Regions from separate parts of the Homo sapiens genome. Here region 1 is linked to region 2. The links come from fine-mapping of genetic effects on gene expression. A gene starts in region 2. The other region holds a variant in brackets. All regions are shown on one strand. Distances are from middle to middle.

Region 1 (5,369 bases), 28 kb before region 2:
CTCTGGGTCTTTACTTGGGAAGGGAAAACATGAAGTGGAATGGGGTTTTAGGATTCTTGAAAGGTTGCCATGGGAAAGGAAGATTAGATTTGACCACAGGGTTAGAGCTAGGACAAGTGGGTGAAAGACCCCAGATAGTTCGGTGCCATATGGCAAAGAGCTTCCTCTTAGTCTTAGCTGCCACAAAATGGCTTTGTGCCATGGGAGGTTGATATCAAGAGCTGTGAAGGATCTGAGATTTTTACCCTACTTGCAGCCTGAAAAGGTGTCCTGCCAATTTATTGGATGTTGGTGGAAGACTCGAGAAAAGGGCCAGTTCCCCTCGTCCCCGCATCCCACAAAGGTGATGAGGATGGGCCCAGATGGATACCTGCAGATGTGGGGGGTTGTGTTCCGGGACAGGAAGGCTGAGTTTAGGGGAGGTCTCAGGCCAGTCACTCAATCGTACTTCACTTGCTCCATTTCCAAATGCAAGTGATGGCAGCACTGGCTTCCCAGGGTTGGTGTTAGGGGACCAGGAGGGGCGGAATATGGGCTGGAGATGGCACGGAAAAGCACCTGGCATCTAAGTACTTGAGAAACTTTGGTCAAATTTTTTTAAATTGGCTTTCCCAGGTTGAAATGATCAACTCTTATTTACATGCATGCATTATAATGACTAGAAGCAAATACAGGAAAATGTTAGCCATACTATATATAAAAGAAAATCCACTTTAAAACCGGTATCTTTCTTTCTTTATAAATAGCAAGTGGGCCGGGTGCGGTGGCTCACACCTGTAATCCCAGCACTTTGGAAGGCCGAGGCAGGCGGATCACCTGAGGTCAGGAGTTCGAGACCAGCCTGGCCAACATGGTGAAACCTTGTCTCTAGTAAAAATACAAAAAAATTAGCTGAGAGTTGTGGTGCATGCCTGTAGTCCCAGCTACTTGGGAGGGTGAGGCAGGAGAATCGCTTGAACTCAGGAGGTGGAGGCTGCAGTGAACCGAGATCGTGCCATTGCACTCCTGCCTGGGTGACAGAGCGAGACTCTGTCTTAAAAAAAAAAAAAAAAAAAAAAAAGACAAGTGGGCTGGTCGCCGTGGCTCACGCCTGTAATCCCAGCACTTTGGGAGGCTGAGGCGGGCGGATCATGAGGTCAGGAGATCGAAACCATCCTGGTTAACACGGTGAAACCCCGTCTCTACTAAAAACACAAAAAATTAGCCGGGTGTGGTGGTGGGTGCCTGTAGTCCTAGCTACTCGGGAGGCTGAGGCAGGAGAATGATATGAGAGGCAGAGCTTGCAGTGAGCCGAGATTGCGCCACTGCACTCCAGCCTGGGCGACAGAGCCAGACTCTGTCTCAAAAAAAAAAAGACAAGTGGATAAAAAGTCTGTCCTAGAATTTAGACATGGATTGAAAAGGTGTTTTTTGATTTTTTTTTTTTTTTTTTTTTTCTGAGACAGGGTCTCACTCTTGCCGAGGCTGGAATGCAGTGGTGTAATCATAGCTCACTGCAGCCTCAAACTCCTGGGCTTAAGCAATCCTCCCACCTCGGCCTTCCAAAGTGCTGGAGTTTAAGTTTTTGAACTAGTTTAGAGTGTGTAAAATTATCATAAGGAATTAATTTACATCTCAAATGACTTCCTCAATACAGCAGTATGAGCTTAGGGAGCACAAGACAGTCAAAGGCAGGCATAACAGAAAAACACTAGTCGTGTTCATGTGAAGATAATGCTGAAATCAGCTGGGCGTAGTGGCTCACGCCTGTAATCCTAGCACTTTGGGAGGCTGACTTGGGTGGATTTTTGAGCTCAGGAGTTCAAGACCATCCTGGGCAACACGGTGAAACCCCGTCTCTACTAAAATACAAAAAATTAGCCGGACGTGGCAGCCTGCGCCTGTAATCCCAGCTACTTGGGAGGCTGAGAGACAGGACAATCGTTTGAACCCGGGAGGCGGAGGTTGCAGTGCTGAGATCCCACCATTACACTCCAGCCTGGGCAAGCGTGAGACTCTATCTCTAAATAAATAGATAATGCTAAAATCTTTGGTTTATTTGACATTGAAATGTTGCAGCTTAAGTTGGAGGCAAATTTTCTGCAATGTT[T/G]TATAATATATATATTTTTTACAACAAAACCATGTTTTTTCATTAACATCCCTTGTTATTTCTGAGTGGCCTTCCCAAAGGGCAAGTTTAGCTCTAATGTTGAAATTCACTTGTAGAGCTGTAGGCCTTTACCCGGAAGGTATATCTTATGTTTTAATTTTTGCATGCCTCTTTCACCAAAAATCTCTGGGACAGGCACATAGTTTGTGTGACTTATGCACACCTGAGCCACTCCTTTGACCATCCACAGATCCCCAGACTAGGAAAGAGGCCCAGAGAAGTTCAGATGAGTTTGGCCAAGTTCCCTGGGTGGTGAGAGGCCTGGCCTGCCTCATGTAGTAACAGAACTGCTTCTTTTTTTTCCTTCCTCTTTTTGGAAGAAAAAAGAGGCAGGATCTCACTGTCTTGTCCAGGCTGGAAGGCAGTGGCGTGATCATGGCTCACTACAGCCTTAACAACTAACAACTTAAAACTATAGCCTCAAGCAGTCCTCCTACCTCAGCCTCCTGAGTGGCTGGGACTACAGGTGTGCACCAGCAGCACGCACAGCTAATTTAAAAAAATTGTTAGCAACAAAGTGAGATCCTGTCTTTACAAAAGGACTTGTTTTTGTTTTGTTTTGTTTTTTTGAGAGAACACCTTGCTCTATCGCCTAGGCAGGAGTGCAGTGGTGCAGTCTTGGCTCACTGCAGCGGTGTGATCTTGGCTCACTGCAGCCGGTGCCTCCTGGGTTCAACCAGTTCTCATGCCTCAGCCTCCTGAGTAGATGTGATTACAGGTGCGTGCCACCACGCCCAGCTAATTTTTTGTATTTTTAGTAGAGACAGAGTTTCACCGTGTTAGCCAGGATGGTCTCGATCTCCTGATCTCGTGATCCACCTGCCTCGGCCTTTTTTTAGTATAGATAGGGTTTCTTTTTTTTCTTTTTCTTTTTCTTTTTGAGATGGATTTTCACTTTTGTTGCCCAGGCTGGAGTGCAATGGCACAATCTCAGCTCACCACAACCTCTGTCTCCCAGGTTCAAGTGATTCTCCTGCCTCAGCCTCCCAAGTAGCTGGGATTACAGGCATGTGCCACCACGCCTGGCTAATTTTTGTATTTTTAGTAGAAACGGGGTTTCACCATGTTGGCCAGGCTTGTCTCAAACTCCTGGCCTCAAGTGATCTGCACATTTCAGCCTCCCAAAGTGTTGGGATTACAGGCATGAGCCACTGCGCCCAGTCTGTTTTTGGCTTTTTTGAGACAGGTTCTCATTCTGTCACCCAGGCTAGAGTGTAGAGGTGTGATCATGGCTCACTGCAGCCTCAGCCTCCTGGGCTCTTGTGATCCTCCTGCCTTAGCCTCCCAAAGTGTTGGGATTACGGGCATGAGCCACTGCACCCAGCCAAATCTGCTTCTCTTGAGCTTTGCCCATGTGTCAGGCATGTAGGACTTTATAGTCCTTATCTCTCATCATAAACTCTGGGTACAGGCTGTTGCTACTCCCATTTTACAGATGTACAGGAACATTCTCAGACTCTTTAAGCTAGGAAGAGGCAAAGTCTGAGGCTAGACCTGCTAACTTGGGGCCAGATGGCCTCATTCATGCTTCACCCCAGCTCCTCGGACAGGACCTGGCCCACAGTGGGGAACAGGGGAGGTTGGTCAGTCCTGGACAATCAGTGAAGACCTTTAGCAGATTTCACCAACCAAAAGTCATGCAGGAAAGTGTGCGCGCGCGCGTGTGTGTGGTATGTGTGTGTGTGTGTGGTGTGTGTGTGTGTGTCTTACTCTGTTGCCCAGGCTGGAGTGCAGTGGCACAATCTTGGCTCACTGCAACCTCTGCCTCCCAGGTTCAAGTGATTCTCCTGGCTCAGCCTCCCAGTGTGCCACCACACCCAGTGAGGGAAAGCTATTTTTACATGGCTCAAGCAGTGTAAATGACAATGATGTTTACTTACTTCCCCCCACCACCACCACCATTTAATTCTCCTCTTGAAAACTAAAAGCTGGCTGGGTATGGTGCATCACTCCTATAATCCCAGCACTCCAGCACTTTGGGAGGATCACTTGAACTCAGGAGTTTGAGGCCAGCCTGGACAACATAGTGAGACGCCATCACTATAAGAAATAAAAAAATAGCTGAGTGTGGTGGCATATGCCTGTAGTCCCAGCTACTTGGGAGGCTGAGGTGGGAGGATTGCTAGAGCCCGGGAAGTCAAGGCTGCAGTGAACCGTGATTGCACCTCTGCACTCCAGCCTGGGTGACTCCCCACAGATGAATATGCTGACAGTGGTTTCAGCTGCTCGGTGGTGATTCAGACCTGGACGCGTGGCTTCAGTAGCCCTGGGGCCACACTGCCTGCCCGCAGCCTCCTGTCTTGCTCTATGCTATTCCTTCCAAGTCCCTGCCATCTAGTCTTTAGTCCTCTCTGCCTGGGAGGCCTCTTCCACTCCTCAGCCTTATGTCATCTTATCCATCCTTTAAGGCCCTTGCTCCATGCCTCCCCTCCCAGGGCAGGGCTTGGATGTAGGAGAATGTGGAGAACTGGCGCACGCCAGCCTTGCTCCCCAGCAGAGGAGCTCTGTTTACTGGAGTGCGTACTTAGGCCACGGCTTGAAGATATGGGGCTGGGGTGTAGGGCTGTCAAGATTGTTCCTGGGGCCAGGTGCAGTAGTTCACTCCTGTAATCCCAACACTTTGGGAGGCCGAGGCCGGCAGTTCACCTGAGGTCAGGAGTTCAAGACCAGGCTGGCCAACATGGTGAAACCCCATCTCTACTAAAAATACAAAAAAAAAAAAATTAGTCGGGCAGGGTAGCGGGTACCTGTAATCCCAGCTACTTAGGAGGCTGAGGTGGGAGAATTGCATGAACCAGGGAGGCAGAGGTTGCAGTGAGCTGAGATCGCGCCACTGCACTCCAGCCTGGGCGACAGAGCGAGACTCCGTCTTAAAAAAAAAAAAAAAAAAAAAAAGATTGTTCTTGGGCTCTCTGTGAAGCTTGGATTTCTTTGGGTTGGGTGTGCCATGGCAAGTGCCATGGCAGACCTGGGTGAGGGAAAAGGGAGTACAATGGGAAGGGCTTCCCCAGCTCTGGAGATAGGTAGGGTTGGGGAGAGGCCAAAAGACTCTTTGCTGAGTCATCTCTCAGGCTCCTGGGGCCATCAGAGTGTCCAGGCCCCAAAGGTGGTTTTCGGGTGGTTCTAGGGGCAAGGGGCTAGGGCATGGTGCTGGCCCTGCCTGGTGATCACCTGTTGAGTGACCAGCTCAGGTCCCCAGGGTCCAGCCATTGAGCTGACT
Region 2 (5,332 bases):
CCCGCCCCCGGACGCTGCCCGGGCCCCGCCCCGACGCACACGCCCAGGTGCGGCTGCACTTCGCCTTTGTTCTCGCCACCTAGCGGTCCGGCGTGCCCCTGCAAGGACCCGGCAACTGCTCCCGCGCTAACCAGACCAGTGATGGATTCATTGCAATGCGGAACTTTCCTTGACTGCAAAAGTGATATTTAATATGTAAAATATCAAAAGGAAGCCGGGCGCAGTGGCTCACGCCTGTAATCCCAACACTTTGGGAGGCCGAGGCGGGTGGATCACGAGGTCAGGAGTTCAAGGCCAGCCTGGCCAACATGGGGAAACCCCGTCTCTATTAAAAATACAAAAATTAGCCGGGAGTGGTGGCACGCGCCTGTAATCCCAGCTACTCGGGAGGCTGAGGCAGGAGCGTGGCTTGAACCCGGGAGGCGGAGGTTGTGGTGAGCCGAGATCGCACCACTGCACTCTAGCCTGGGCGATAGAGCGAGACTCCGTCTCAAAAAAAAAAAAAAAAAAAAAAAAGAATCTCCTACCCTTCCCAGAGATTGCCATTGTAAACTTTCTGGGTTGTGTCCTTCCAGTGTTTTCTCTAAGCAAATAAACACACCCAACTCCCTTTCTCCCCAACCCAACTTTTTTGTGTGTTGTTTTGAGAACATAAAGATGATTATATCAATGTTATCACATTCTAGTAGTTTCTTAGCAGTGCGAATGAAAATTTTCATATTATTAGCTATTTTTATTCTTTTTCAAATTGCCTATTGATCTTTTGCAGATTTTTCTAAGAGCAGGCATTTTCTTGATTTGTTGATTTTTTTTTTTTCTTGAGCTCTAGACACTAAGAAAATGAAAGAAAGCATATACACTAAGGCTTCATTTGAGAAAACATTATCTCCAGTTTCCATCTTGAGCTCTCTGCCAGGCTACAGCTTTTACATTCATAACTTCACTGTTTTCTCTTTGGTCCAGAAAAGCTTTCCTTACCCATGACTGTATAAATAGTCATTATGGTTGGCAGCCACAGTTTCCATTGCAATGTGACAGTCTTGATTTTTCCCATGGAAAGTGTGGTATTTGTGTCCGGGCTATGAAATTGGTAATGTCATTCCTGTTTCACAGATGAGGAAACTGGGGTTCAGAGAGCGAAAGTGTGGTCCTGCCAGGAGTAGTGGAGCTAAGACTGAACCTCACACCTCGGGGCCAGCACCCAGGCCTGCTATGTCCTCTCTGTCCCTGACCTAGTGGGTAGCCAGAGCTGAGAGGACAGAGCAGAGCTTGAGAGGAACAATATTTCGTGAGGCATGTGAGGATTGAAAGCCTCATAGAGTCCTTCAGCCATGCTCTTGGCATAAGGACTGATGTGTTTATAGTGACTGGTGAATTGTCAGACCTCAACCAACCACCGTTCTCCACTGGAAGCTGATCTTGGAAAGGTCAGAGGTCCCGAGGGTCTGCAGGTGGGAAGGAGGAGACTGACATTTATTGAGCACCTACTTGGTGCCAGACACTGAAAGTATTAGAGATTAAGGGTGACTTGCCTCTGTTCTGGCCCCAAAGAAGCACCATCTGATAGAAAAATAAGTAGCAACATGGTATGGTAGAGTCTGGAATGGGGTTTACTGTGAATTGCGTAGGGCGTGGCAGAATTCACAGTAAAAGGTTTTTGGAAGAAGTGACACCATGGTGGGGTATTACTGAGCAAAGGGGAAAAGGAGGGAGGGAGAGGAGGTAAGAATATACAAGGCTCCGCTGGGCGCGGTGGCTCAGGTCTGTAATCCCAGCACTTTGGGAGGCCAAGGCAGGCGGATCACAAGATCAGGGAATCGAGACCATCCTAGCTAACACGGTGAAACCCCATCTCTACTAAAACTACAAAAAAATTAGCCGGGCGTGGTGGCGGGCCCCTGTAATCCCAGCTGCTCGGGAGGCTGAGGCAGGAGAATGGCGTGAACACGGGAGGCGGAGCTTGCAGTCAGCCGAGATTGCGCCACTGCACTCCAGCCTGGGCGACTGAGCGAGACTCCCGTCTCCAAATAAATAAATTAATTAATTAAAGAATACACAAGGCTCCACTGGGTTACTGGGTGTGCTGTAGGGAGATTTTATTGAATCCCATACTCCCATATTGGAAGAACACTCAAGCCCATTTACAGTGTGGGACTAATGCTGAGAGGTTGAGTCACATTGGCAGGAAAGAGCAGAGCCAGGAACTGAAGCTAGGTCTGTGACTTAGAGCCGGCACTCTTTCCACTGCAGAGGGGAGAGGTCTCAAGGCAGAACCTGGGGCTGTGCACACCGCGGGAAGGGCAGAGGCCCCTGGAAACGAACAGGAGCAGGAGGCCCAGGGCTGCGCAGCAACCAAGGAGGACACGAGGAAGGTGCTTGTGCCACCGGTGGAAGACGTGGCTTTGGCTTTTAGGCTCCCCTCGGGGCAGGAGCAGATCAAAGAGCCTAGCCCCAGCTTCGGTGGTGGGTGGGGGGTCCTCCCGGCAGCGGGGAGCGTGGGCACCAGCATCCTCAGCCTGCGGCTCCCAGGCGAGTGTGGGAGGGCAGAGCCCAGAGAATTGGAGGTGGGGCCAATGTGGGCCCCGCCCCCAACCATTGTGTCGGAGAGGGAAGTGGACGAGCTCCTCGGTAAGAACCAATGAGGATGTGGTATGCAAATAAGCAAGTGGAGGCCGCCAGCCGACTTCCTCGCACTGTGCAGCTGCTCCAGTGAGGGCGCAGACTGTACTGGCCTGTGCGGAGCAAGGCGGTGTTTCTGGTGAGTCTGTTGATTCTGGGCTGGGGTGAAAGCCAGGTTGCCCAGGGTTTGGGAGGAGGGCGGGTCGAGCACACGCAGATCCAAAGATGATCGGAGACAGGATTGTCCTCAGCGATTCCACCCCGATGACTCTGGAAACTGCCTGCCTGCAGACGCATGGGGGCCATGGAGCAGAGGAAGGGCTGGATGCATGAAGGAGGCGGGGTGCGGGGAGCGAGGGACCCGCAGACTCCAGGGCCACAGATGCGTGGACCTATTGGAGACCCTCAGGTTGTCTCCCCACCCCACGCAGAGAGGAATGCGCAGCTGAAGAGAGAGGTGGGCAGCAGGCCCGGTCACCTGCCAGGTGACCACATGGCCAGGTGCCGCCACCACTCGGGTTACCTGGCCGATGACGAGGCCAGCCACTCCATGTGCAGTGCACGGGTAAGTGTGCCCAGCAGGGCGCCGACCCTTGAGGCCACAACATGTTCCCCACCAACCCTGGCACCCAAGACCACAACCCCCATTTCTCATTGTCTATTGACTTCTCTGGGCCTCTTAGTGAAGTCCTTATTGCCTTGACTTCTCCTATGTCCCCCACTGCTTGCCCCTGTCACACTCAATTTCATTCCTTGTTTCCTCCTGACTTCCAGCGACCCAGAAGGTGCTTGGGTGGACTGGGACCCTAGAGTGGGAGCATGGAGTTGACTAGGTGCCTATGGCTCAAGTTGGAGAAACAGGCCCGGGTAGCACAGGGCTCAAGACCTCAGGTGTTGTCTGCACTCAAGACCTCAGATGTTGTTTGCAGCCCTGCCATGGATACAGGGATGGCCTGCTGCATGGACAGATGAGGAGCTGGAGGGAGACTCCGAGAGATTCATGATTGCTCATCCTGCCACGTGTCAGGGCAGAAGCAGGCTTGCAGACTCCTTAGCCAGGACTTGTGTGTGTGAAATGTAGGTGTTAGGAAAGCTTCGGGGTGACCCTGAATAGACCTCCACTTTGCAGATGAGGACATTGGACCTCAAGAGGGGCCATCTTGCACACTGGCATCAGGCTGTAGGTGGCAGAGCCAGGGTCCAAACCCAGGGCTTCCAGACTCCAAAATGCAGCTCCTTCCACTACTCACTCCCACCCAGGTCCTAGTGTTACCCCAGGGAACCCTTCACCTGTAGGGCACCCCTGCCCCCTGTGACATACCTGTCTGCTCAGGTGCAGCTGCCCAAGAAGCCACTGGTCCCAGAAATGCGGCCAGCCTGCAAGCCGGGCCGTGTGCCACACCCACCATCCACATGTGGCAGCTCAGCACTCCAGGGCCAACGCCGAAACAAGAGGCACCCTCAGCCCTTTGGCCACTTTCTGGATTTCCTAACTGAGAGCCAGGTCCTGGACAGCCTGGAGACAGTGGTGGAGAAGGCGACTGAGCGCATGGCTGCCATGAAGACGGAGGCTGGGGTGCCGCTTGTGGAGGTGCAGGACCCAGTGGAGGTGCCAAGTGGTGGACGGCGGGCACATGCCCGGCCCAGCCTCAGCACCGTACACCGGCACCGTGTACGGCCGACCCTCTGCACTGGACACCCCAACAACTACCCATCCAGCTCCAGCTCCATGTCCAACTGCCATAGCAGCCTCATGGCCGGCTGTCTGGGCTCCCACAGCCGGGACAGTGACCTAGGTGCCCAAGGCTCATTGCCACCTGTGAGGGACAAACTCCTGCTGGAGAAGAACCTCAAGCGGCTGCTACAGCTGGAGAGGGAAGGGGTGAGAGCCAGGGCCATGGCTGGGTGGGGTGGACTCCCATGGAGAGCCCAGGGCTAGGGTCAGCCCTGGCTTGGCTGCTCCTGAACACTTCACAGAGTCACCCTCTTTCTGCAGAAAGGCCTCAGTCAGTCCTGCTCCCAGAGGGACTCCCTGCTGTGGGATTCGCTGGGTAGCCAGACCAGCTTTCAGTGGACACAGGAGCAGCCCTTGTCCTGGTTCTCAGGGCTGCTGGGCTCAAGCTCTGGCGTGCCTGAAGCATCAGAGCCGAGGCCTGGAGAACAGGAGCCAATCTTCCGCAAGCGAGAGTTCAATAAGGAGATCAAGTCATTACTGAGCCAGCTGGAGTCCCTCGACCTGCCTGGCTACTGTCCGCTCCGTGAGCCCCATCGCACGCTGAACTTCCTGGCTGACCACCGCCTCTTCCCTGCCCTGCAAAGCGTGGTCAGCCAGGCTGTGGATAAGCTCCGTGGCGCCCACTGCCGCGACGGCCGTCCTCTGTTCCCCACCAGCTTGGAGCCCACCTCAGATCTGCCGCCTCTGGGCTCTGAGCCAGCTAAACCCACCAATGGCGGGCAGCCCTATGCTTCCCCCCGCCCCACAGTCTCCAGCCCCAAGATGCTTCAGAGAAAACGCAAGGACAGAGGAGGCTCCCCCTCCATGTCTAGTGCCCAGGTGGCCACCAGATTCAAACTCAAGGTGACACCCACGGAGAAGCCCAATGTCCCCAGCCCCTCACTCCACTCCAGGGAGGAGGCACCTGACTCAGATCCCAAATTACAAAACCCACCTGTTTCCCTGAGCTCCAGCCAGAGGGCCCAGCCCTGGCAGGGC

Alleles and levels. Positions count from the first base shown, and alleles are read on the strand shown. Sizes are in standard deviations (SD) of each study's normalised expression.
For the expression in spleen of the gene that starts at base 2,691 in region 2, allele T in region 1 goes with a higher level than allele G (moderate effect, 0.73 SD a copy in GTEx).

What was found. PIP is the estimated chance that this variant, and not a neighbour inherited with it, causes the effect. A credible set is the group of variants that fine-mapping cannot tell apart.
Region 1: its variant is the best candidate, but not a certain one, in a credible set for the expression of CCDC116 in spleen (GTEx, PIP 0.54).

Annotation. Positions count from the first base shown.
Region 1 is chr22:21,602,494-21,607,862 of GRCh38, forward strand. The region is part of intron 2 of UBE2L3 (ubiquitin conjugating enzyme E2 L3); the gene reads left to right. Among named protein-coding and RNA genes, the nearest start is that of YDJC, 25 kb to the right of the region's middle. The variant T/G (reference allele first, on the strand shown) is at 2,090.
Region 2 is chr22:21,630,070-21,635,401 of GRCh38, forward strand. CCDC116 (coiled-coil domain containing 116) reads left to right here and starts at 2,691. Exons shown (of 5, transcript NM_152612.3): 1 at 2,691-2,758; 2 at 3,051-3,184; 3 at 3,953-4,501; 4 at 4,616-5,197. The coding sequence starts at 3,113. RefSeq lists a silencer at 1-179 and an enhancer at 2,423-2,922.